3 separate regions of the Homo sapiens genome follow, and all the other regions are linked to region 2. Evidence: fine-mapped expression QTL. A gene starts in region 2. Each other region holds a variant in brackets. All regions are shown on one strand. Distances are from middle to middle. Region 1 overlaps ASGR2 (asialoglycoprotein receptor 2). Region 2 holds the start of CLEC10A (C-type lectin domain containing 10A). Region 3 overlaps ASGR2 (asialoglycoprotein receptor 2).

Region 1 (5,826 bases), 30 kb before region 2:
CAAAGTCACCGCATTTCCCTCCAGCAGCCCGGGTGGTGGGGGCTGGGGGAACGTCATCATGGGAGCTGACACTGATCAGCTGCTCACCGGGGCCCATCTTCCACTTGTCTCAGCACTTGATTTTTTTCTGCTACCCCCTTTTTCTTTTAAAGATTTCAATTATGCATGTATTAAGGGTCCCACAGCTCACTCATTCTCTTTCCATTTTTTAATTCTTTTTTCTCCCAGTGTTTCATTTTATAGAGTTATTGCTGTTCATTAAGTTAACTAAAATTTTCCCCTTCCCCTCCCCCTCCCCTCCCCTCCTTTCCTTCCCTCGCTTCCCCTCCCCTCTCTCTCTCTCATCTCACTCTGTTGCCCAGGCTGGAATGCAGTAGCTTGTCACAACTCACTGTGGCCTCCACCTCCTGGGCTCAGGCGATCCTTCCACTTCAGCCTCCCAGGTAGCTGGGACTATAGGCATGTGGCACCACACCTGGCTAATTAAAAATTTTTTTTTGTAGAGACGGTTTTGCCATGTAGAGGGGTTTTGCCATGCTGCCCAGACTAGTCTTGAGCTCCTGGGCTCAAGTGATTCCCCCCGTGTCGACCTCCCAAAGTGCTGGGATTACAGATGTGATCCACAGTGCCTGGCCCTAAATTTTTCTTACGCATTTCTCATCTTCCATTATTTCCATCCAGTGTGTTTTTTCTTTTCTTTCTTTTCTTTTTTTTTTTTTTGGAGGCGGAGTCTCGCTCTGTTGCCCAGGCCGGAGTGCAGTGGCGCGATCTTGGCTCACTGCAAGCTCTGCCTCCCGGGTTCATGCCATTCTCCTGCCTCAGCCTCCCGAGTAGCTGGGACTACAGGCGCCTGCCACCACGTCTGGCTAATTTTTTGTATTTTTAGTAGAGATGGGGTTTCACCATGTTAGCCAGGATGGTGTCGATCTCCTGACCTCATGATCTGCCCGCCTTGGCCTCCCACAGTGCTGGGATTCCAGGCGTGAGCCACGGCGCCTGGCCAGTGTGTTTTTTCATTTCAGACATTGTAGTTTTTATCTCTAGAAGTTCACCTGGGGACTCTTAAATATCCTCCACAATTCTACTTAATTTTTTGAACATAATGGGATATGGCTATAATATCTGTTTTACCATCCTTGCCTGCTAATTCTAGCATCCGTGTCAGTTCTGGATCTCTTTTGATATTTATGAACCTCCTCGTTATGCATTGTGTTTTCCCGTTTCATTGCATGCCTTGTAATCTTTGATTGGCTGCCAGACATTGTCAATTTCACCTTGTTGGGTGCTGGATATTTTTGTATTCCTCTAAATGTTCTTGAGCTTTGCTCCGGGATGCAGTTAAGCAACTTAGAGTCAGTTTGATCGTTTGAACTCTTAATTGTTTTGGTCTCCTCGGACTCTCAGCTCCATCTCCTCAACGTGGGGAGTCTCTTGGGCTCTGCCTGGACTTCCCTTTCCTGGCCTGTAACCTGCAGACTCTCTCCAAACAGTAAGCTGGGGTGATCGGAGGGTTCCTGTTGTTTGCTTCTTATCCCTCAGGGATCTTTACTCCTCCTTGCCTGATGTCCAGAGTCTTGAAAGCTGCCATGTTCTATAGTTGTCTGTTTTTGTTTTGATTGTTTCTGGGGAGAGAAGAACTCTTCCCATCTTGGGCAGACCCTGTCTTTTATGTTCAAACTTTTGCCTAAGAAGCACATTACATATTTTAACTCATCTAATTATCCGAGCAATCCAATCGGGTAGCTACGACTGTGATCTCCATTTTACACACGAGAAAATGGAAGCATGGAGAAATTGAATGCTGGTGCATGATCTCAGAGCTACCTGGAGGCACAGCTGGGCTACCCTGTGGGCAGTCTGGTTTCAGGGTGGATATACAGACACGTTGCTGGGCTGACCCAGCATTGGGAGTTGATAAGTCGGACTGGGAAGCAGGACAGGACCCTCTGAGTGGAGGGTGCTGAAGACAGCAGTCAGGGACTCAGCCATGGAGGGCCAGCTTGGTGGGGAACACCGTGGTCATGGAGCGCTTCTGGATGGAGAGGAATGCAAAGGCCTTGGAGGAAGGGGTGGGGGCAGTGAGAGGGAGGGTGGGGCTGTGCTCAGAGCGGGAGTGGGCAGTGGAGGTGTCAGAGGCCTCCCTGGGTCAAATGGGGTCCTGAGTGTGGCTGCAGTGGGGAAGGTGGAAGTCACTGGTGTGAAAAAGATGAAGAGTTATGGACAGTCACTTACAGGGGCAGTGTCTGACTCAGGACAGTGGCAGGAAGTGACCTGGGGAGGAAGATTCTGGGCCCCTGACTGAGCCTCCCCAGGATGTGGTCCTGCTGGGT[C/T]GGGGGGTGATAGGAATGAGAAGACAAGGAAGTCCACAGAGTCAGGGTCCAAGGCCTAGAAGGTGTTCTGTTTGCAGGTGGATGCTGCAAAGAGAGGAGCTCAGGGCTGGGACAACTGGAGCTGCTCTGGGTCTGGAGGCAGCAGAGAGGGAGCCCAGCTCTGTGTGCAGGAAGACGTGGGTGTGTGAGTGTACGTGTGTGGGTGTGTCAGGTGTGTGTGTGTGGGAGGGAGTATGAATGTGTGCATTAGCATGCATATGCACATGTGAGAGTGGGTACAGCAGAGCGTGGTCATGAGTGTGTGCAAATGTGTGTTTTTGAGTGAAGTGAGCAATGTGTGAGTGTGTGAGTGTGTGTGAGTTTGTGAGGGCATGTGAATGTGTGTGTCAGTGCTGTCAGGGTGCAGATGGATCAAGGGGCAGGAGAGGTACCTGTGAGATGACCTCGGGCTGAGGGGAGCAAATTTAGTGTGGAACGAGGTTTCTAGGGAAGCGAGGGCAAAGGGCGCTGGGGAGGAGGCCTTGCGTGGTGGGGGATGAGGACAACAGGTGGGACCTGGAGGGTTGTGCTTGGAGAGTGGGCTATGGTGGAATGACCCAGATTTAAGGATCTCAATGGAATTTTGGCAGGGGAGGGACTGTTCCAGTATGGATTTTAGGAAGAACACAGGGCCCAGCTTCTGGAGTCTCCAATCTGAGGGGACAGGAGCCTTAGAAGAGCTGAGACTAAGGCCCGAGGTGATCTGGAGGCCTCTGCCACTGGCTGGATGGGAGGAAAACCATTCACAGATCCCCCTTCTCAGGATGTGTGCCTAGGCAGGGCCGGGTCTGCCCCCCCGCCCCCTGTGCGTCTCCCAGTCCCCCAGCTCCAGGATCCGGGCTTTGCACACAGCTGATGTGAATATCCTGAGTCGTGTGCATGGGTGTGTGTGCACCAGATTAGCTGCGTGTGTATATTTATACATGGTAATATGGGTGCGAGTGTGTAAGAGTGTGTGTGTAATGCTCAAATGCTGGGGTCAAAGCCTATGATGACCCCCCCCCATGGCCCCAACCAATCCCCCCGCCCAGGTTATGCCTCCTCAGGCTTCGGTGCCCTGTCTTTACCCTCCGGCTCCCCACACCCAGGCTGCCGGCTCCTGATGCCCCTCTCCCACAGGGCCACCTCCTGCCCAGCCCCTGGCACAGCGTCTCTGCTCCATGGTCTGCTTCAGTCTGCTTGCCCTGAGCTTCAACATCCTGCTGCTGGTGGTCATCTGTGTGACTGGGTCCCAAAGTGAGGGTCACGGGGGCCAGCAGGGATGGGCAAGGGGTAGGGAAAGAGACATGGGCAGTGGCGGGCAGCGATCGGGGCGATGGGAGGGGAAGGGATGGAGGCGGGGTGGAGCACAAGCTGGGGCAAATGCGGGGACATTGAGGGGCCAGTCACATGGACAGTGATGGGGACACGGCCCCTCTGCCTCATCCTGCCCCCACTACCACCTGACAAGGTGCACAGCTGCAAGCCGAGCTGCGGAGCCTGAAGGAAGCTTTCAGCAACTTCTCCTCGAGCACCCTGACGGAGGTCCAGGCAATCAGCACCCACGGTGAGGGGCTGGACGGCTGGGTTCTCATTTATCCGCACAGGTTTGCTGGGCTCAGTGCCGAGTCTGCAACAGGGCTGTGTGGGGTGCCGTGGGGGTGCAGGCTGGGCAAGGCGTCCAGGGGCCCTGGGGGATGTATAGGAGGGAGGCAGGTGGGGACGGACGAGGTTAGTGCCAGGTGGAGAGGTTGGATCTGCGACACCCGGAGGTGAGGAAGGCACCATGTCTTGGGCCTGTGAGCAAATCGAGTGTGGCAGGCCCATCGGAGGGGCAGGCAGGTAAGGGGTGGCCAGAGAGAGGTGGGGAGGGGCCCGGCCACGCAGGTGAGCCGTGCTGACAGAGCGAGGCTTTATTTTGAGAAAATGGGGACCCATTGAAGGGACTGAAGCAGGAGAGTGGCCTGAGCCACTGTGGCAGTGCAGGGAGCCTGGGTGTGGTCCAGGAAGCCAGGAGGTGGACGCCTGCATCGCCCAGGACGAGGCGCTGGCCCCCGGTCCCCCAGCAGCATGAGGACGGAGGGAGGCTCAGCGGGGAAACAGCTGGCTTTCCGCTTCCAGGAGGCAGCGTGGGTGACAAGATCACATCCCTAGGAGCCAAGCTGGAGAAACAGCAGCAGGACCTGAAAGCAGGTCAGAGAGCCTCCGGGGTGTGTGCGCATGTGCGTGCATGTGTACGTGTGCGGTGTGTGTAGTGTGTACGTGTGCGGTGTGTGTAGTGTGCACGTGTGCGTGCGTGCGTGTGTGTGCCTGCAAGCATGTGTATCTGTGTCTCTCTCCGTATGTGTGGTGTGATATGTCATGGATCTGTGTGTGGTGTGTAGTGTGGTGTATATGTGTGTGTTGTGTGTGTATGCATGTGTGGTGGTGTGTGTGAGATGAGTCTGTGTGTGTGCGGTATGGTATATGTGTGTGTACGCATGTGATGTGTGTGGTGTGTCTCTTGGTGTGTTTGTGTGTGTGTGATGGATCTGTGTGTGGTGTGGTCTATGTGTGGTGTACATGTCTGTGGTGTGTGTGTGGTATGGTGTGTGGTGTGGTCTATGCATGGTGTACGTGTCTGTGGGTGTATATGCTTCCCCAGCCACAGGCTGGAGCCTAGCAGGTGGGGACCACACCTGCCGGCAGCACTTTCAGCCTGTCTGTCCTAGATCACGATGCCCTGCTCTTCCATCTGAAGCACTTCCCCGTGGACCTGCGCTTCGTGGCCTGCCAGATGGAGCTCCTCCACAGCAACGGTAGGGGTGGGGCCGTCTCCAGGCCCAGTGTGCCTGCCCCTCCGGCTGGATCTCATCTCCCTGCCCCCTGTCCCCTCAGGCTCCCAAAGGACCTGCTGCCCCGTCAACTGGGTGGAGCACCAAGGCAGCTGCTACTGGTTCTCTCACTCCGGGAAGGCCTGGGCTGAGGCGGAGAAGTACTGCCAGCTGGAGAACGCACACCTGGTGGTCATCAACTCCTGGGAGGAGCAGGTGAGGCCACGCTTCCCACAGGCAGGAGGAAGCCCTTGGAAGGCCTGCTCTGGGAGGCTGGATCAGGCTTATTTTATCCATTTTTTTTTTTTTTTTGAGATGGAGTCTCGCTCTGTCGCCCAAGCTGGAGTGCAGTGGCACGATCTCGGCTCACTGCAAGCTCCGCCTTCTGGGTTCACGCCATTCTCCTGCCTCGGCCTCCCAAAGTGCTGGGATTACAGGCACGTGCCACCATGCCCGGCTAATTTTTTTGTATTTTTAGTAGAGACGGGGTTTCACCGTCTTAGCCAGGCTGGTCTGGAACTCCTGACCTCATGATCCGCCCACCTCCGCCTCCCAAAGTGGTGGGATTACAGGCGTGAACCACCGCGTCTGGCTGAACTTCAAAGTATTTTAATGCCACAGTAGTTAAGCCATATGATACAGGGGCCAGAATATATGTATTGTTT
Region 2 (10,877 bases):
AGTTTGAGACTAGGCTGGGGAACAATAGTGAGATCTGTTCTCTACACAGTAAAATGTTTAACTAGTGTGGTGGTGCATGCCTGTAGTCCTAGCTATTCAGGAGGCTGAGGCGGGAGGATCACTTGAGCCCAGGAGGGGCTGTTTCTCTTGGATTTTTAAAGTAGACAATCATGTCATTTACCAATAATGACAGTTCTCTTTCCCTTTCAACCTTCATATGTTCCAATCACTTGTCTTTCTGTATGGTCTGGAAGAATCTCATGGAGAACTGGTGGCACGAGCGTGCTTTCTCTTGTTCCTAGCTTAAAAAAAAAAAAAAAAAGTCCTGACCAGTAGCGGTTCTAGGAGAGGGTAAGAATTTGCGGAAAATGTGGCGGAAGAGGGAAACGATCATTGTCAACAGTGAAAGGGGTCTCAGGGACAGAAGCATTTAGGAAAGAAAAGAAGATTGCTTGCCAAGACCTGGCAAATAAATCAGGCTTTAGAAGGACAGGCTTGCCAAACTAAAACCACAACAAGTATTGAAAGGGAAATTCTCCAAGATTACCATTGTGAGCACGTTTTTATCAGTCTACTCATGATGGCAAAACCCAGCGCTTTTCTCACATGATTTTCATATGCACGAAAGGTCATGACCTACCCAGGCGTCAGCATTGCAAACATCAGGGTTAGAGTTGTTTTTCTAGGGAGTCAGCAATTTATAGAAAATGCTCAATGTTTAGTTTATTTTGGGGACTAGAAGAACTATTTTTTTCATGAAACCCGCAAGCAATTTATCAGCGAAATTCTGTCTGCTCTACCTTCACAATATATCCAGAATCACAACACTTCTGACCACCTCATTTCTCACCTGGATATGACAGCAGCTTCTTACCTAGACTCTCTGTTTCCAGCTTGTTTCATCAAATTCACAACACAAAAGCCACACCGTTACAGTTAACATATGTCAGGTTATGTCATTCCTCTGCTCCAACCCCTTCAAAGTCTGCATCTCTGACTCAGAGTAAAAACAAGTCCTTAATAACAGCCAACAAGGCTCACATTTTCCCCCATCGCTCATCTACTCTTCTCCTCCCTGACTCACTTCTCTATAAAATCTCTGGCAAGTCTGTCAAATGGATGATCCTCATACACACCAGACGTTCTCCCACCTCAGGGCCTTTGCACTTGCTCTGCCCGCTCCCTGCATCACTCTTCCTGCCAGAGCCCCTTGTGACTTGCTTCCTTACCTCCTTCAAACTTTGCTCAGATATCACCTTCCCAGTGAGGCCTTTCTTGACACTCTGGTATGGTTTGGATCTGTGTCCCCGCCCAAATCTCATCTTGAATTGTAATCCCCGATGTTGGAGGTGGGGCCTGGTAGGAGGTGATTGGATTATGGGATGGATTTCTCATGAATGGTTAGCACCATCTCCTTGGTGCTGTTCTCATGATAGTGAGGGAGTTCTCGTGAGATCTGGTCTTTTTTTTTTTTTTTTTTTTTTTGATGGAGTCTTGCTCTGTTGCCCAGGCTGGAGTGCAGTGGCGCGATCTCGGCTCACTGCAAGCTCCGCCTTCTGGGTTCATGCCATTCTCCTGCCTCAGCCTCCCCAGTAGCTGGGACTACAGGTGCCCGCTACCCCGCCTGGCTAATTTTTTGTATTTTTAGTAGAGACAGGGTTTCACTGTGTTAGCCAGGATGGTCTCGATCTCCTGACCTCATGATCCGCCCGCCTTGGCCATCCAAAGTGCTGGGATTACAGGCGTGAGCCACTGCGCACAGCCGTGAGATCTGGTCATTTAAAATCTGATCCCCTGTCTTTTCTCTTGCTCCTGTTCTTACCATGTGAGGCACCTGCTCCCCCTTCATCTTCCACCATGATCATAAGTTTCCTGAGGCCTCCCCAGAAACTGAGCAGAGGCCGGCACCATGCTTCCTGCACAGCCTGCAGAACTACGAAGCAATTAAACCCCTTTCCTTGATAAATTACCGAGTCTCAGGTATTTATTTAGAGCAATGTGAGAATGGACTAATACATGCCCTATTCTTGAGGGACATTAAAAATCAACCCTATCTCATATCCCTGCTCTTTTTCCGCAAAGCACTATTGCCATGTGGCTTATGTATATTTTACTCATTTATTTTGTTTATTGGTGACCCACTAGAAGGTAAGCTCTATGAAGGCAGGACTTTTTTGTCTGTTTACTTTTGAACTCCTGAACTCTGCCTCTTGGGAAGGAAAGTGCTTGGCATGCCGTAGACTCAATAAGTACTCAAATGGATGAATAAATGTGTATAAGAGTGATTGGACGTATGTTTATTGCAGAACTATTTACAATAGGAAAGACTTGGAACCAACCCAAATGCCCATCAATGATAGACTGGATAAGGAAATTGTGGCACATATACACCATGGAATACTATGCAGCCATAAAAAAGAATGAGTTCATGTCCTTTGCAGGGACATAGATGAAGCTGGAAACCATCATTCTCAGCAAAGTAACACAGGAACAGAACACCAAACACCGCATGTTCTCACTCATAACCGGGAGCTGAACAATGAGAACACATGGATACAGGGAGGGGAACATCACACACCAGGGTCTGTCAGGGGGTGGGCGGCAAGGGGAGGGAGAGCATTAGGACAAATACCTAATGTATGCGGGCCTTAAAACCTAGGTGATGGGTTGATAGGTGCAGCAAACCACCATGGCACACGTATACCTACGTAACAAACCTGCACATTCTGCACATGTATCCCAGAACTAAAAAAAAAAAAAGAAGCTTCAAACCCACTGAACCAGACTGAAAAAAAAAAGTTAGTGAATGGAGAAATATCATGTTCTTTTCATGGAAGATTCAACAATGTCAAAATGTTGATTATCTCCAAATTAATATGTGAATACACTGCAAGACTGTGGTAGACACACAGAGAGCTACCCAGGTCCCCCTTCTAGGAAGGATGTGGTGACCCACTGTGGGGAGTGTAACCTGCAGACAGCTGCTTCCTGAGGTCACACCCATGTCAGGGCTGACTGCCAGTGACCGAAGGAGCTGGTGCTCTACAGGACCCTGTGGCAGTCCAATGCTGGACAGCTCCCGGGGGTGGCATTGTTTGAACCCAGAGCTCCCTGTTGGTTTGGTTGAAGCTCTCCAAAGTGCTGGGCTTCTCCCTCTGCCCAGCACCATTTCATCCACTTTCCTTTTCGAAGTGCTAATCCCTAATAAATAGCTTGTACCCCAAATTCAGCCTCAACCTTGGCTTCCAAAAACCGAACCTGCGACATATACTAATCAAAATACCGAATACCAAATAAAAACAAAACTGGCAACGACCTGGCCGGGTGCGGTGGCTCGCGCCTGTAATCCCTGCACTTTGGGAGGCTGAGGCGGGCAGATCATGTGAGGTCAGGAGGTCAAGACCAGCCTGGCCAATATGGTGAAACCCCTCTCTACTAAAAATACAAGAATTAGCTGGGTGTGGTGGCGGGACCTGTAATCTCGGCTACTCGGGAGGCTGAGGCAGGAGAATCGCTTAAACCCAGGAGATGCAGTAGCCGAGATTGTGTCACTGCACTCCAGCCTGGGCAACAGAGTGAGACTCTGTCTCAAAAAAATAAATAAATAAATAAAATAAAAAAGAAAAGAAAAAGAAACAACTTAAATTTCTGATTTATTTCTGTCAATAGAGAAATGCTAAATAAATAAATTACGGTGCCTATGATGAAATGAGGTGCAGGTAGATCAAGTACATTTTATAAACTGATGTGGAGAAATGTTCCTGATAGCTTGTTAACTCCAAAAAAAAAAAAAAAAAGCACATAGCAGAACACAACCCCATGTACATACAAAATATAACCTAAAATGTATTTCTTCTCCTTCTCCACCTTGTAAGATACTCAGTTTCCTTCCTACTGAAAGGGATGTGCGCGTGGATTCAGGGCAGCTCCCTTAGGGGTTGAGCAGGGATCATGGGATGAAATGGAATCCTGTTCATGAAGACAGCGCCTGTGCTGAGAGCCAGAGCAGGGTGCCAAACTGTCTCCTTACAAGCTGTGAGTGATCTTGGGCTCTGAGCCTTTAGTCCGTCATCCAAAATGCCTCCCCAGGTGCTTGGGGGGAATGGTTGTGGAAGGTAAATGTCTGGCATAATCCTATCACAGATTACTCAATAAAATTTGCTCTTTTCCTTGGCTTCTCCCGTCCTATTAGGGCCAAGAAGTTCTATTCTCTGGCACCCCCTTCCCTCCTTCCGAGTGGAGTGAGGCGAGCGAGGCCACAGCTGAGCAGCCGAATGACTGGGACCCAGAGGATGCTGATGCCAGGGACTCAGGCCAGGATTGAGCAAGAGAACAGACTGGGCTTCTCTAGGATCAGAGGTGCGATGATGGAGACCCAACAATTCTGGGAAATGTAGAGGCAGGAAGTGAAAGGAAGTGTAGGGTAGAGGAGCAACAGCAGATTGTACCTCTGATCCAGCCCTGCTCCCAGATGGTAAAAATGAGGAAGCTCCGAGAAGAGGAAAGGAAGTAGGCATGGCCTGGAGGAGGAGAACAGAGCTGGCCTCAAACCCAACTCTCCCCACCCACACATGGTCTCTGTGTGTTCTAATCCCTGTTCATTCTCATTTACTGTCTAAAGTTGAGGAGATGGGATGTCCCAGATGATAGGGCTCCTGGGATTTCAGACCCAAGACCAGCAGGACTCCAGTCACCTCTACCCCAGCTCTCCAGGACACAGCGCTCCCAACTCTGAGTGACGTCCCACCTCTGGTCCTTGCAGCACAACCAACGTGGGAATCACACCCTCCAGACCTCCCACAGGTAATGGTGCTGCCGGTGCCGGTGAGACCCAGGGGACAGGGGATGTCAGAGGAAGCAGGGAGAGGGGGACTTTGGGTCTTGGGTGGGACTAAATGAAAATAAATATAAGGCGGCAGTGTGGGGTTTAATTACTACGTGGAGATTTGAGACTCTGTTCCCTTCACTGGATTCTAGATTGGGTTACGGCAGCCACAATCCCCTGTCATAAACTAAGACTCCGGGAGCTGAGGCAGGAGAATCTTGTGAACCCAGGAGGCAGAGGTTGCAGTGAGCCGAGACGGCCTCGTTGCACAACAGCCTGGGCGACAAGAACGAAATTCCATCTCAAAAAATAAATAAATAAAAATAAAAATAAACTAAGACTCAGACTCAGCCTCATTGGTGGCCCATTTCCAGCCTTATCTTCATCTCAGCCCAGCCATGCCCTAATCCCAATACTAACCCCAGCTTCTACATTTTCTTTTTTTTTGAGACTGAGTCTCACTGTGTCGTCCAGGCTGGAGTGCAACGGCACAACCTCGGCTCACTGCCACCTCTGCCTCCTGGGTTCAAGTGATTCTCCTGCCTCAGCCTCCCAAGTAGCTGGGATTACAGGCGCACACCACCACACCCAGCTAATTTTTGTATTTTTAGTAGAGATGGGGTTTCACCATGTTGGCCAGGCCGGTCTCAAACTCCTGACCTAAAGTGATCTGTCTGCTTCGGTCTCCCAAAGTGCTGGGATTTATAGGCGTGAGCCACCGCACCTGTCGCCCCCCACCCAGCTCCTACTTCAACCCCAACCCCAGAATCAACTTGAATTTTAACACCAGCCCAAAGCCAAAATTGAACCTCGACTCTATTCTGTTTCCAAATTCACCACCAAAGTTAACCCCAATTCCATCCATGGCTCCAACGTGCATACTGACCCCAATCCTAGCATGAGATACAACCTCCAGTCCTGCCTGATTAACTGGCCCACTGGGTAGTCCTAGCAATGCGTTTAGCTCCAACGTTACCCTCCAGTTTCACTCCCAAACTCAACTCGACCCCAATTCTAACTCGACTGCAAACCCAGGCTCATTTCCGTCTTAACCCTGGGCTCATTCTCAACCTGAGCCTCATCTCCCAACTCAACGTCAGCCCTGCCCTTGGCTCCAACTTAGTCCCAACCTCCTATTCCCCAGCTCCACCCCAGACTGGGCGCCGGCCCTGCCTCCATTTCAGCTGTGACAACCTCAGAGCCGTGTTGGCCCAAGCATGACAAGGACGTATGAAAACTTCCAGTACTTGGAGAATAAGGTGAAAGTCCAGGGGTTTAAAAATGGTAAGAGGAAAGGGGAAACTCTCCTAAAATGCCCTCTTTATATGTTTAGAAGGATTTCTCCTATCATTTCTGTACCTCCACCACGCGCACTGGTGGGTCCTAACTCTGAGGAGGTCAGGCCCCAGCCTCTGACGGGCCTAGTGTGAAGAGGATGCAAGGTCTCTAGAAAGACTGGGACAGGGAGGATCACAGTGGACCCAGCTTCTGATGCTCTGTGGGGTGGGGATGAGAGCTGCGCATTGGTGGAGGGAAAGATAAGTAGTTGGGTTTGGAAGGAAACTCATTTGTGAACCTGATTGTCCAGCAGGTAGGTGAGCATAAGCCCATGAAGGGCTGGCTGCCCCCAGCTCTCCCTGTGTCCTCCTGCCCCTGCCCCCAGCTCTGACCATGGGACCCCTCATATCGCTATCACGTGGGTCCCCAGGGGTGTGAGGGGCCTGTGTGACTGAGGACTTGTGCTGGTCCCTGAAGTCAAAGGCCTGGGCATCCCCCACCCCAAAATCCTCCTTGTCCAACCCTCCCCTGGAGTCCCCTGTGCCCAGCCCTCCTCACTAGACAGCTCCCTGGGCCCTCTCCTTCTCCCGTCTCCGGTGTCTGGACCCTCCTCATCCTGACACTCTCTCCTCTTGCAGGGCCACTTCCTCTCCAGTCCCTCCTGCAGCGTCTCTGCTCTGGGCCCTGCCATCTCCTGCTGTCCCTGGGCCTCGGCCTCCTGCTGCTGGTCATCATCTGTGTGGTTGGATTCCAAAGTGAGGGTCACAGGGGTGGACAGGGAAGAGAGAAATAATGGGGTAGAAGATAAATAATGGGGTGCTACAGTAGGGCAGTGGTGGGGCGATGGTGAGGTCCACAGTAGGAGCAATGCAGGGCACAGTGTTGGGGGCAGCTGTGGAGATAACAATGGGGCATGGTGAGGGCAGTGCTACCAACAGTCATGGGGGTCACAACAGAGCCACTGAAGCACTGATGGGGCACTGATGGAGTGATTGATGGGAATGGAGGAGAGGGCACTGATGGAGTGATTGATGGTAACGGTAGGGGGGCACTGATGGAGTGATTGATGGGGACGGTGGTGGGGGCACAGACGGAGTGATTTATGGGAATGGTGGGGGGCATTGATGGAGTGATTGATGGGAATGGTTGGGGGTCACTGATGGAGTCATTGATGGGAATGGTGGGGGGGCACTGATGGAGTGATTGATAGGAACGGTGGGGGGTCACTGATGGGGTGATTGATGGGAATGGTGGTGGGGGTCACTGATGGAGTGATTGTTGGGAATGGTGGGGGGCACTGATGCAGTGATCGATGGGAATGGTGATGGGAGCACTGATGGGGTGACTGATGGGAATAGTGGGGGGCACTGATGGAGTGATTGATGAGAACAGTGGTCGGAGCACTGATGGAGTGATTGATGGGAATGGTGATGGGGGCACTGATGGAGTGATTGATGGGAATGGTGGGGGGGCACTGATGGAGTGATTGATGGGGACGGTGGTGGGGGTAGTGATGGAGAGAGTTGACGGACCCATAGTCAGGATGGCTGCTGGCTTTGTCACTGAGTAGTTGGGTTATGTACTCAAATTACTTCACCTCTCTGAGGCTTAGTTTCCTCATCGGCAATATTGAACAATAATAGTGCCTGCCCCACTGGGTTGCCGTGAGGACCCAATAAGGCAATGCTTATGGAGGGCCCTGCTCGGTGCTGGTACAGAGGACCTGATGAATCCCAGCACTGACCTTCCCATCCACCTGTTTAGATTCCAAATTTCAGAGGGACCTGGTGACCCTGAGAACAGATTTTAGCAACTTCACCTCAAACACTGTGGCGGAGATCCAGGCACTGACTTCCCAGGGTGAGTCTGGTTTGGATGGGGCTCTGGGCTGGGGCCAGGCCAGGGAGGAGGAAGTTGACCCCTAAGCCAAGTCTCCGTGTCCTCCAGGCAGCAGCTTGGAAGAAACGATAGCATCTCTGAAAGCTGAGGTGGAGGGTTTCAAGCAGGAACGGCAGGCAGGTGAGAGACCCTCCGAGTATGGGTGTGGGGGGCTAGGCGCTCAGACACAGTGGAGGTGGGAACAGACTCCTGGTGCTGAACTGCCCTCCCCTTCAGCCAGCAGCTTGAAAGGCAGCATGCAGGCCGGGCGCAGTGGTTCACGCCTGTAATCCCAGCAGTTTGGGAGGCCGAGGCGGGTGGATCACGAGGTCAGGAGTTCGAGAGCAGCCTGATCGACATGGTGAAACCCCGTCTCTACTAAAAAAAATACAAAAAATAGCTGGGTGTGGTGGTGGGCGCCTGTAATCTCAGCTACTAGGGAGGCTGAGGCAGGAGAATTGCTTGAACACGGGAGGCGGAGGTAGCCGTGAGCCGAGATCGCGCCATTGCACTCCAGCCTGGGCAGCAAGAGTGAAACTCCGTCTCAAAAAAAAAAAAAAAAAAAAGAAAGAAAGAAAGAAAGGCAGCATGCTTTCTCTGGAGAGCAGGCTGGAGAAACAGGGGCAGAGGAATCCAAAGCAGATTTGATGGCTGTACCTGGCCATGATGTAGGGGGTGGGTGGGGGCGGGAAGGAACATTCCCTGGCTTGGCCCTGTGCAGGGGTATCTGAGCTCCAGGAACACACTACGCAGAAGGCACACCTAGGCCACTGTCCCCACTGCCCATCTGTGTGTGTCCCAGTTCATTCTGAAATGCTCCTGCGAGTCCAGCAGCTGGTGCAAGACCTGAAGAAACTGACCTGCCAGGTGGCTACTCTCAACAACAATGGTGAGGAAGGTATGGGGAGTACCTGGCCCTACTTTTCTGCCCATGGCCCACTGGGCAGAGCCTCAGCCTCTCCACCCTATCCTATTTCTCCCCAATCAGCCTCCACTGAAGGGACCTGCTGCCCTGTCAACTGGGTGGAGCACCAAGACAGCTGCTACTGGTTCTCTCACTCTGGGATGTCCTGGGCCGAGGCTGAGAAGTACTGCCAGCTGAAGAACGCCCACCTGGTGGTCATCAACTCCAGGGAGGAGCAGGTGAGGGCTTCTGGTACTCAGTTCCTAAGACATGTCCCATTTAGGGAAATGGTTCTTAAGCTTGGCCGCACATTGGAATCATCTGGGAGCTTCCAGAATGACTGTCATCTGTGCCACACCCTCAGAGATTTAATAGGCCTGAGCATCCAGAGAAACATCTCCAAACTCCTCAGTTGATTTAACGAAGAGCTAAAGTTGAGAATCACTAGTTTAAGGAGTTGGCTGGGATGGGAAGAAGTCACCACTGCCCTTCTGTCACCGCAGAATTTTGTCCAGAAATATCTAGGCTCCGCATACACCTGGATGGGCCTCAGTGACCCTGAAGGAGCCTGGAAGTGGGTGGATGGAACAGACTATGCGACCGGCTTCCAGTGAGTGCACCCTGGCTTTCTGTGCCAATGTCCTCCGTCAGCGTTTCCCCCAGGGATCTGACTGGCAGCCTCTCCTCCCCTGAACTGAATTCTACTCCATCTACCCTTCCTAGCTTGCTGTTGTCTTTTCCTCTCAGGAACTGGAAGCCAGGCCAGCCAGACGACTGGCAGGGGCACGGGCTGGGTGGAGGCGAGGACTGTGCTCACTTCCATCCAGACGGCAGGTGGAATGACGACGTCTGCCAGAGGCCCTACCACTGGGTCTGCGAGGCTGGCCTGGGTCAGACCAGCCAGGAGAGTCACTGAGCTGCCTTTGGTGGGACCACCCGGCCACAGAAATGGCGGTGGGAGGAGGACTCTTCTCACGACCTCCTCGCAAGACCGCTCTGGGAGAGAAATAAGCACTGGGAGATTGGAAGCACTGCTAACATTTTGAATTTTTTTCTCTTTAATTTTAAAAAGATGGTATAGTGTTCTTAAGCTTTTATTTTTTTTCCAACTTTTGAAAGTCAACTTCATGAAGGTATAATTTTTACATAATAAAAATGCACTCATTTAAAGAGTAGAGATGACTTTGACAAATATGCATGCCTAGGTGACTACCACTCCGATCGCAATAGATAACATTGCCATCGCCCCCACCAGTCCCCTCATGCCTCTGGGCAGTCCAACCACTTCCCTGTTTCCAGGCCAGTGATCTACTTCTTTTTCACTATTTATTGGCCTTGCCTCTTCTAGAGCTTCTAGAACTTCATATAAGTGAAATCATACACTCTCGTGTATATACTTCATATAAGTGAATATATACTCTCGTGAGAACTTACGTACTTTGTGTTGCTTGATTTTTGGCAATCTAAAAATGGCAGAGTGGAGAAGCCAGGTGAAGCCTTCGAAAGTCCTATGTGATTGAGAAAATAGCATTTTCTTCTCATATAGATTTGAGTTCAAATCTTTTCTGTCACTTAAAGATGGTATAAACTTAGGGTGATTAGGAAAAGCCATTGTTTAATTTCTCTGAAGATCCCAGAGTTGTTGGGAGATGTAGATAAGATCCCCAGGTGTATTGGTTAGCAATTGGTGTGTAACAAACCACCTCAAAGCTCAGGGCTTATACAGTAAGCATTTATTATAGCTCATGAGGCTATAGGTCTGGTCTGGCCAGGTTTGGGTCATCTTGGCTGGGCTTGTTTATGCGTCCGTGGTCAGCTGGTGGGTTGGCTTGGGGTTGGCTGGTCTAGGGTAGCCTTGCTCCCATGTCTCATATTTGGCTGGCTCTGGGCTGGGACAATGGGGATGACTGGGCCACATTAGCTTAGCCTGGCCTTGTTCACAGAATGGCTGGGTGGGGGTCCAAGAGAGAAATTGGAAGACTGCAAGGACTT
Region 3 (10,877 bases), 21 kb before region 2:
CTTCAAGAGTTAAAAAAAATATATCGACTCCTGGATCTCGCCCTTAAAAATGCTGATTTAGGCCGGGTGCAGTGGCTCACGCCTGTAATCCCAGCACTTTGGGAGGCCGAGGTGGGCGGATCATGAAGTCAGGAGTTCGAGACCAGCCTGGCCAAAATGGTGAAACCCTATCTGTACTAAACATACAAAAATTAGCCGGGCATGGTGGCGGGTGCCTGTAATCCCAGCTACTCAGGAGGCTGAGGCAGGAGAATCACTTGAACCCGGGAGGCAGAGGTTGTGGTGAGCTGAGACTGCGCCATTATACTCCAGCCCGGGTGACAGTGCGAGACTCTGACTCAAAAAAAAAAAAAAATGCTAATTTAAATTAATCTTGGCTTCATCCTGGACCATTCCCTGAGGGGCAGCACAGGGCAGCTAAGCTTAAGGTATTTCTCCTATATAGGTTTTTTGTTTTGTTTTGTTTTTGATACAAGATCTGGCTCTATCGCCCAGGTTGGAGTGCAGTGGCATGATCTCAGCTCACTGTAACCTGTGCCTCCCGGGCTCAACGGATTCTCCCACCTCAGCCTCCCAAGTAGCTGGGACTACAGGTGCACACCACCATACCTGGGTAGTTTTTTGCATTTTTAGTAGAAATGGTGTTGTGCCATGTTGCCCAGGCTGGTCTTGAACCCCTGGCCTCAAGCGATTCGCCCGCCTGGGCCTCCCAAAATATTGGGATTACAGGTGTCTGAGCCACTGTAATCCAAAAACTGCACCTGGCAGGTTTTGTTTTTGATGTTTAAAAATCTAATAAGTACCTTTTCTTTTAATAGGTGAGTGTCTCATTTACATTCTAATAGATATGTTTAACCCTAGTCCTTTCTTTTTTCTGCTTTACATGCTTCTTAATTTTCTTACAATTGCTATGTGAGAGGTGTTCTTTTTGTTTTCTTCTTTATGGTATTTTGGAAACTATGTAGTTTATTTAGAGTTATTCCAGTGATTACTTGTATAACTTTAAATAATAGGCTGAAAATTATTGGCTTTGAAAACTAAAAGTTTGTATAACTTCCATAGGAAAGGTGAGGAGACCAGGATACCTCTTATTCCCATGTGTCTGAGTCTTTCCTTTCCTAGGTTCCTTAAGTGTTGTATCTGAAAAAAAAAAAAAATTTTTTTTTTTTTTGAGATGGAGTCTTGCTCTGTCGCCCAGGCTGGAGTGCAATGGCGCGATCTTGGCTCACTGCAACCTCTGCCTCCCAGGTTCAAGCAATTCTCCTGTCTTAGTATCCCGAGTAGCTGAGATTACAGGCACCCGCCATCGTGCCTGGCTAACTTTTATATTTTTTAGTAGAGACAGGGTTTCACCATGTTGGTCAGGCTGGTCTTGAACTCCTGACCTCGTGATCCGCCCGCCTTGGCCTCCTGAAGTGCTGGGATTACAGGTGTGAGCCACCACGCCCGGCCCCTCAAGTGTTTTATCTGAAATTTTTTGTTTATTTTTATTTTTTGAAATGGAGACTTGCTCTTTCGCCCAGGCTGGAGTGCAGTGACACGATCTCGACTCATTGCAAGCTCTGCCTCCCGGTTCAAGCAATTCTCCTGCCTCAGTCTCCCGAGTAGCTAGGATTACAGGTGCCTGCCACCATGCCTGGCTAATATTTATATTTTTAGTAGAGACAAGGTTTCACCATGTTGGCCAGGCTGGTCTTGAACTCCTGACCTCAGGTGATCCTCCCGCCTGGCCTTCCCAAAGTGCTAGGATTACAGGCATGAGCCACTACGCCTGGCTTTTTTTTTTTTTTTTTTTTTTAAGACAGAGTTTTGCTCTTTTTGACCAGGCTGGAGTGCAATGGCACGATCTTGGCTCACTACAACCTCCGCCTCCCAGGTTCAAGCGATTCTCCTGCCTCAGCCTCCCAAGTAGCTGGGATTACAGGCATGCGCCAACACGCCTGGCTAATTTTGTATTTTTAGTGGAGATGAGGTTTCTCCGTGTTGGTCAGGCTGGTCTCCAATTCCCGATCTCAGGTGATTCACCTGCCTTGGCCTCCCATAGTGCTGGGATTACAGGCGTGAGCCACCACACCTGGGCTTTTTTTTTTAGTATGTAGCTCAAACTTTTCATTTCCTTTCCTTATCATGTTCTCTTTTTTTTTTATATCTTCTTTCATGTTTTATGTCATTCTTTTTAAAATTTTTGAAGCATGTAAAGAAACTGTTCTTGGGAGCGGGGAGGGAGAGCATTAGGAGATATACCTAATGTTAAATGACGAGTTAATGGGTGCAGCACACCAACATGGCACATGTATACATATGTAACAAACCTGCACGTTGTGCACATGTACCCTAAAACTTAAAGTATAATAATAATAAAAAAGAAACTGTTCTCCAACATCCCCTCATATTCCGAAACAAGGCTTCTTTTCAAAGTCTATTTTTCACCTCTCTTTTTGATATCACAGTTCATTTTTCATCTGCCTCATCTTCCTCTTTCTTTTTGGGGGCATAAGTTCCATGATGATTTTCTCCATTACTTTTGTGAATGGGCACAGTGCTTTCTTTCCTATGGTTCACCCAGGAAAGGGGGAATGAATTCTCCCGGACTGTCTTCTCTGATCATCTGGCATGATTTGATTCCTCCTCTCAGTCTTTAACACGGCGGGCTGGATACTGCTAATTTGTAGTCTGCTCAGTTGTTCTGTTTCTCGTGGTGATGGGAGGGAGGGCTGGCAGCAGGTAGCAGCACATAGTGTGTGTTGTCTCCAGGCACTTTCTCTCCAACTCCGTTGACTCCTCTGAATTTGGGGAGCAGCCTCACCTGCCTCTGAGGGCTGCCCCTTCATGCATGGGACTTTGTCCTATTTGTGGGATTCCAGAATTTAGGGATGCCCCAGTTTCTGATGCTCAATCGGAAGAGGTGAATAACTGCAACCTTAGTTGTTTTTCTAGAGAGTGAGAGTAGAATTAGGCAATTGTCCTTCAAATACTGTTGGAAGGAAAATTCCAGGCTGTCAAAGGGAATTGTTAAGTGTGCACGTTGCTCAACGGATCCATCCCTCTCCACTTTCTCCACAAAACCAGGTGACCACACCTTCCCCTCCTACCCTACCGAACCACGGGACCTAGGTCCCCAGGAACAGCTGTATGTGTAAGAGAAAGCCACTTGGAGGGGCTACCGTGCTGGGAGTGTGGGTGCGCGTGGGTCCCGGGGAGCTATCTGCAGGCTCGAAGTCCACTTTCACCCAAGCCCCTGGCAACTGGCTGTCCGGGCTGCTTCCTCACACCCCGGTGTCTTCCTATTTTGCCCCGATTGTCAGACTCCACGTAGCTAGATCATAATGGGGCCCTGGGCAGTGGGTCCAAGCTTAGAAGCTCCCGGGCCTGACAGATCTCAGGAAATGACAGCTACACATAGAAGCGAGAGCTACCAGGGGCCAATGTACTTGAGAGGCCAGTGAAACTGAGATCTTCAGTGGGTCTGGGGTCTGGGGGGCAGTAAGAGCAGGGACCAGGGTCGGGATCCCAGGAGTTCGAGGCTGTGGGCAGAAGACAGGGAGAGAACCGGAACTTGGGTAGAGCCATAAGCTGGGAATGAAGGGGGACACCGGCCCAGGGCTGTGAACAGGGGACAGTGGCCACTAACTCAGGTACAGGATTGGCTCTCTGGCTCTGCAACTCCCTGCAAAATGTGGTCACTGCAGTGCCCATCTTAGAGAGCTTCTGAGGATTAAATGAGATCATCTTTGCACAGACAGCACGAAGTCTAGCCTAGCAAATGTGCACTGAACAGTAGCTAGAGTGACGGAAGAAAAAGCTAGGAAGCAGTCTTGTCGGGAGCTGGTGCTTCAGCCTGAGGGCAG[A/C]TCAGGCTGGGGAAGGCTGAGAGGGGCCACAGTTCCATGCCTGCATGGAGGGAGGAGAAAGGCACAAGAGACTAGAAATTTCCTGTTTGCCTGTGTTTCCAGAAATTCATTGTACAACACACGAACCCCTTCAATACCTGGATAGGTCTCACGGACAGTGATGGCTCTTGGAAATGGGTGGATGGCACAGACTATAGGCACAACTACAAGTAAGTGGCCTCTTCCCTCATCTCCTTGTTAGATTTCTCTGGGGACAGCCCCCTGGCCTTTCACTCCAAGCTACCCTGACTCGTCCCTCAGGGACCAAATTCCCCAATCCTCTCCTCCCCAGACTCCAACCCCTCCAAAGCTGTGCTCTTCTGGGCTGGGGGTGAGGGTTGCTGGGACTGGGCATAGGAAACATCTTTCTCTGCGGTTGGGTTCTCCCCAGACTGGGTAGCAGGGCACACCCCAGCTCCACTCTCGGCCTTCAAGGAAAATGGTCATGAAGAGGAGGAGGATGGGTAAGTCGCTTTCTCACCACCGTGGCAGAGTCCGAGTTTTCTCTTGCCTCCTTAGGAACTGGGCTGTCACTCAGCCAGATAATTGGCACGGGCACGAGCTGGGTGGAAGTGAAGACTGTGTTGAAGTCCAGCCGGATGGCCGCTGGAACGATGACTTCTGCCTGCAGGTGTACCGCTGGGTGTGTGAGAAAAGGCGGAATGCCACCGGCGAGGTGGCCTGACCCCAGCACACCTCTGGCTAACCCATACCCCACACCTGCCCAGCTCTGGCTTCTCTGTTGAGGATTTTGAGGAAAGGAAGAAACACTGAGACAGGGGTATGGGGAAGAGCTGAGCAAAGAGAGAAAGGAGGTAGTTTAAGAGTCCCTGACCCTGGAGGACTGAGATCCCACCTCCTTCTGTAATTCATTGTAATTATTATAATCGTCAGCCTCTTCAATGGCGTAGGAAAGAAGAAACAAATGCTTGAATCTCTGTGTGGCCTGGTTATTGGGAACTGAGAAACAGCATGCAAAGAGGAGGGAGAGGGGAGGGCATGGAAGACGCAAGGCGCGCATCCTAGACAGCTGCTCCTTGGTCCCTAATCCCGAGGGACATTGGTCAGGGAAACGGGAAAGGGGCTTGGAGCAGACAGGCTTAGTGGCTGGCACTGGTGGGAAAGGGGTCGGCCGGGCTGTGGCTGGAGGGTCCGCCTGGCTCCCAGTGAGAGGTGACAGCGTGCTGGCAGTCCTCACAGCCCTCGCTCGCTCTCGGCGCCTCCTCTGCCTGGGCTCCCACTTTGGCGGCACTTGAGGAGCCCTTCATCCCGCCGCTGCACTGTGGGAGCCCCTTTCCGGGCTGGCCAAGGCCGGAGCCGGCTCCCTCAGCTTGCAGGGAGGTGTGGAGGGAGCGGCGCTTGCGGGCCAGCGCGATTTCCGGGTGGGCGTGGACTCGGCGGACCCCGCACTCGGAGTGGCCGGCCTGCCCCACCGGCCGCGGGCAGTGATGGGCTTAGCACCTGAGCCAGCAGCTGCTGTGCTCAATTTCTCGCCACGCCTTAGCTGCCTTCCCGCGGGGCAGGGCTTGGGACCCGCAGCCCGCCATGCCTGAGCCTCCCCGACCCCCGCTCCGTGGGCTCCTGTGCGGCCCGAGCCTCCCCGACCAGCGCCGCCCCCTGCTCCAGGGCGCGCTCAGTGCCATCGACCACCCAAGGGCTGAGGAGTGCGGGCGCAGGGCGCGGGACTGGCAGGCAGCTCCACCTGCGGCCCCAGTGCAGGATCCATGGGGTGAAGCCAGCGGGGCTCCTGAGTCTGGTGGGGACTTGAAGAACCTTTATGTCTAGCTAAGGGATTGTAAATGCACCAATTGGCACTCTGTATCTAGCTCAAGGTTTGTAAACACACCAATCAGCACCCTGTGTCTAGCTCAGGGTTTGTGAATGCACCAATTGACACTCTGTATCTAGCTACTCTGGTCGGGAAGTCGAGAACCTTTGTGCCTAGCTCAGGGATTGTAAACGCACCAATCAGGCCAGATAAGAGAATAAAAGCAGGCTGCCCCAGCCAGCAGCGGCAACCCACTCGGGTCCCCTGCCACACTGTGGAAGCTTTGTTCTTTCGCTCTTTGCAATAAATCTTGCTGCTGCTCACTCTTTGGGTCCACACTGCCTTAAGAGCTGTAACACTCACCACGAAGTTCCGCAGCTTCACTCCTGAGCCAGTGAGACCATGAACCTACCAGAAGGAAGAAACTCTGAAGACATCTGAACATCAGAAGGAACAAACTCCAGACACGCCGCCTTTAAGAACTGTAACACTCACCGCGAGGGTCCGCGGCTTCATTCTTGAAGTCAGTGAGACCAAGAACCCACCAATTCCGGACACACCAGGGCTCCCAAAGGAAACATCTTTCTCTGCGGTTGGGTTCTCCCCAGACCGGGTCGCAGGGCATACCCCAGCTCCACTCTCAGCCTTCAAGGAAAATGGTCACGACGAGGAGGAGGATGGGTAAGTCACTTTCTCACCACCGTGGCTCTGTCTTTTTGACCCCAAGCGGATCTAGACATATCTTCAACACAGGGTGTCACCAACAATCTCCACAGTGGGCAAACTTCCCGCTCCAAGAACATTCTGAAACTGACCTTAAAAAGACTATTCAGCGGTTATATTATTTATTTAAGTTGGAGTCTTGCTGTGTTGCCCAGGCTGGAGTGCAATGGTGCGGTCTTGGCTCACTGCAACCTCCACCTCCCGGGTTCAAGCGATTCTTCTGCCTCAGCCTCCCGAGTAGCTGGGATTACAGGCATGCGCCACCACACCCAGCTAATTTTTGTATTTTTAGTAGAAACAGCGTTTCGCCATGTTGGCCAGGCTGATCTTGAACTCCTGACCTCGGGTGATCCGCCCGCCTCTGCCTTCCAAAGTGCTGGGATTATAGGCATGAGCCACGGGGCCCGGCCCCATATTTTTAAATTTTTAAAGTACAGAAGTAATACATTCTATTAGTAAAAAAATGTTTTAAATGACACACACACACGCACGCACACGAGTGTCCTCTCAGTCCTCCTCCGTCTCCCCAGAGTCAACTCTTTCCTGTGTCCCCTGCCAGAGCCCTTCCTGTGTACATGAGTAGATGCAATATTATGTCATTACATAGTGCCTGTTCCGCTTCACAGTGTCTCGTGGACACCAGTCTAATCTATGCCATTACCTGGCAGGTTTTACCTCCTTGGATTTAGCAGCTGTAGAGAATTCCAAAGTAGGGATGTACCATGCATTATGTAATCATTCTCTGTAGGGGGCAAGTAGTTACCACTTTTGTTTCTTTGTTTTCACATAGAATGTTTCAAAGTAATTTTTTTGCTCATAAGCTTGGGATAGGTCAAGACTTCCCACTTTTCAGTTGAAAAATTTTCTAGGATTGCCCCTTCAAAATGTACACGATTGGGATTAAATTTAAAAAACCGTGAAAATAGGCTGGGTGCAATGGCTCATGCCTATAATCTTAGCATTTTGAGAGGCTGAGGTGGTGGGTCGCCTGAGCTCAGGAGTTTGAGACTAGCCTGGGCAATATGGCGAAACCCAGTCTGTACAACATGCACACACACACACACACACCCCAGCTGGATGTGGTGGTGCATCCCTGCAGTCCCAGCTACTTGGGAGGCTGAGATGAGGGGATAGTTTGAGCCCAGGAAATTGAAGCTGCAGTGAGCTGTGACTGTGTCACTACACTGCAGCCTGGGTAAGACAGCGAGATCTTTTCTCAAAAAATAAATTATGGAAGTAATAATACACTCTAAAGTTTTATAGGACTAGAATTTTTATAGAAAAGTAGAAATTTTATAAAGTCTATAAAACTAGAAGTATAAAGTCTATAAAACTAGAAGTTTTACAGGGCTCTAGGTTACTTGACCTGCCCCCTTTAGCTCCTCTTGCTGCCTGGAGAAACTGCTTTCAGTGATTCTAGCTGTTTCTTCTAGTACTGACATCTGCAGTTCTAAGTAAGACACACAAACTGATATTTCATCTTCGTATGAGTTGTAGACATTATTTAGTCGCTATCATGTAAACGAGGTAAAATCTTCCAATGTAGTCTACAATTTATATTTAAATACTACTTTAAAATTTGTATCAGTTGTATCTGTGTCAATATGGTTACTGCTGAGTCAACTACTATAATCTGATTACATTCCCTTTCTTGCACAACTCTCATTTCTTCTGAAAGTAGTCAGTATTCCATTAAAAAAATTTGCCTCATATTCTTTTAACTTATTGCTGAGTCTTCCTGAACTGTAAAAAGCTTGACAATATAATTTTTCCAGACGTGCAAACCAGTCGTATAATCAGTATTTTAGTTGTACTTGGTGTACTTTTTCCTAGAGCCAGAGAAGTGATTCCAAGTTTTATGGGGCCTGAGGTGTACACAATTTTGGGGAGCCCTCTGTAAGAACAATTACAAAATTATGGATATAAAATTAAGCATAAAAATTACCATTTATTTAAATTTAAAAAGTCACAAATTTCAAAAGCAGAGAGCTACCAGAAACATCACAGAATCTAGAAAATGCTATATATACATATATATATAAATTGTATGTGTACATATACATATATATGTGTATACACACACACACACACACATATATATATATATATATTTTTTTTTTTTTTTTGAGACAAAGTCTCGCTCTGTCACCCAGGCTGGAGTGCAGTGGCATGATCATGGCTCTCTGCAGCCTCAAACACCTGGGCTCAAGTGATCCTCCCACTTCAGCCTCCCAAGTAACTGGGACTATAGGTGCATACCACCACGCCTGGCTAATTTTTAAATTTTTTATAATGATAGGGTCTCACTAAACTGGGTTCAAGACCAGAAGGCCTTCTGGTTCAAGACCAGTTTGAGCCTCCTGGTCTCAAACTCCTGTGCTCAAGCGATCCATCTGCCTCGGCCTCCCAGAATGCTGGGTTTCCAGGGTTGTTACAGGTAGTTAGACAGGCATGAGTGGGCAGGAGGGGGCTTTCCCGCCCACTAGAAATGTTGGGTGATGGTTCAGCAATGATCACATCGCCTCTCTAAAAGTGATAAATTGGCCTTGCTCTTGTCGCCCAGGCTGGAGTGCAGTGGCACGATGTTGGCTCACTGCAACCTCCACCTCCCGGGTTCAAACAATTCTCTGCCTCAGCCTCCTGAATAGCTGGGATTACAGTCACCCACCACCACGCCTGGCTAATTTTTGTGTTTTTAGTAGAGATGGGGTTTCACCATCTTGGACAGGCTGGTCTTGAACTCCTGACCTCGTGATCCACCTGCCTCGGCCTCCCAAAGTGCTGGGATTACAGGCATGAGCCGCTGGACCCGGCCATGGAATTGACTTTCAAACTCAACGTAATTCCCTCGAGATTTTTACAAGTTGTTGCATGCGTCAACAGTTCATTTCTTTCTGTTGCTGAGCGCTATTCTATGGTATAGATAGACGTACCACAGTTCGTTTAGCCATTTACTCATTGAAGGACATCTGGGTTGTTTCCAGTCTTTGGCTGTTGCAAATACGGCTGCTATGAATATTCATGTGCAAGTTTTTGTGTGAACACACATTTTTATTTCTCTGGGAGAAATGCCTGAGTGCAATTTCTGGGTCATATAGTGGGTGCATGATTACTTTTAAAAGAAACTGCCAAACTGTTTTCCAGAGTGGTTGTACCATTTTATATTCCCACCAGCAATGTATAAATGATCCAGTTTGCCCACTTCCTCACCTGTATCTGGTTGTTGTCAGTATTTTAAAGTTTTAGCTCTTTGGATAGATATATAGTGATACATTACTGTGGTTCTAATTTGCGTTTCTGTGGCAGCTAATGAGGTTGTACATTCGTTCATGTGCTTATTTTCCATCTGCTTATCCTCTTTGGTAAAACATCTCTTCATGTCGTCTGCCCATTTTCTTTCTTTCTTTCTTTTTTTTTGAGACAAAGTCTCGCTTTGTCACCCAGGCTGGAGTGCAGTGGCGCGATCTCGGCTCACCACAACCTCTACCTCCCAGGGTCAAGTGTTTCTCCTGCCTCAGCCTCCCGAGTAGCTGGGATTACAGGTGCTCGCCACCACGCCCGGCTAATTTTTGTATTTTAGTACAGATGGGGTTTGCTATGTTGGCCAGGCTGGTCTCGAACTCCTGACTTCAGGTGATCCGCCTGCCTCGACCTCCCAACGTGCTGGGATTACAGGCGTGAGCCACTGTGCCCAGGTTTCTGCCCATTTTCTAATTGAGATTGTTTGTTTTTTCACTGTCAAGTTTTGATAATTCATTATATATTCTAGGTACTAACCCTTTGTTGGATAGGTGGTTTGCAAATATTCTCTCCAAGTCTGTAGCTTGTCATGTTATCCTCTTAACAAAAACCCCTTTCCAAAAAGACTAATATGGTAAACAACATCTTGGCAAGCCCAATTAAGGAACTGAGAAAAGTGACATGACCACAAGAAATAGGGAGGTTAAATGACACTTTTCCTGTTGTTATAGAGATTTGGCTAGATTCCCAAAGTTGAGAATGATCATTGGTAAGTGCCCATTTAAAACAGAGAAAAGCTGGATGCATGTAGGCAGGACTAACTAAGAGAGGCAACATAATCACCATCACTCTTCCCAGGCTACGCAAAAGATGAATGGAGATTTAAGGGGATTGTTTCAAAGCAATTCTTTTTTGTTTTTTTATTTTTTGAGATGGAGTCTTGCTCTGTCACCCAGGCTGGAGTGCAGTAGCGCGATCTCGGCTCACTGCAACCTCCACCTCTTGGGTTCAAGTGATTCTCCTACCTTTGCCTCCTGAGTAGCTGGGATTACGGGCACCCGCCATCATGCCTGGCTCCTTTTTGTGTTTTTAGTACAGACAGGGTTTCACCATGTTGGCCACGCTGGTCTCGAACTCCTGACCTCAAGTGATCCACCTGCCTCGGCCTCCCAAAGTGCTGGGATTACAGGCGTGAGCCACCGCGCCCGGCCTCAAGGGAATTCTTAGATGTGTAGCAAGGGATTCAACACTTTTTCCCT

What was found.
Region 1: its variant is fine-mapped to the expression of CLEC10A in prostate (GTEx, PIP above 0.99).
Region 3: its variant is fine-mapped to the expression of CLEC10A in whole blood (TOPMed, PIP above 0.99).

Annotation. Positions count from the first base shown.
Region 1 is chr17:7,106,551-7,112,376 of GRCh38, reverse strand. ASGR2 (asialoglycoprotein receptor 2) reads left to right here. Exons shown (of 9, transcript NM_001201352.2): 3 at 3,489-3,605; 4 at 3,820-3,915; 5 at 4,470-4,541; 6 at 5,060-5,146; 7 at 5,226-5,377. Among named protein-coding and RNA genes, the nearest start is that of ASGR2, 5.4 kb to the left of the region's middle. The variant C/T (reference allele first, on the strand shown) is at 2,331.
Region 2 is chr17:7,073,978-7,084,854 of GRCh38, reverse strand. It overlaps CLEC10A (C-type lectin domain containing 10A), which reads left to right and starts at 4,604. Exons shown (of 9, transcript NM_001330070.2): 1 at 4,604-4,803; 2 at 5,970-6,109; 3 at 6,742-6,858; 4 at 7,868-7,963; 5 at 8,051-8,122; 6 at 8,784-8,870; 7 at 8,970-9,124; 8 at 9,389-9,495; 9 at 9,633-10,318. The coding sequence starts at 6,043. The coding sequence ends at 9,801.
Region 3 is chr17:7,095,270-7,106,146 of GRCh38, reverse strand. It overlaps ASGR2 (asialoglycoprotein receptor 2), which reads left to right. Exons shown (of 9, transcript NM_001201352.2): 8 at 3,951-4,057; 9 at 4,407-4,821. The coding sequence ends at 4,572. Among named protein-coding and RNA genes, the nearest start is that of ASGR2, 14 kb to the left of the region's middle. The variant A/C (reference allele first, on the strand shown) is at 3,849.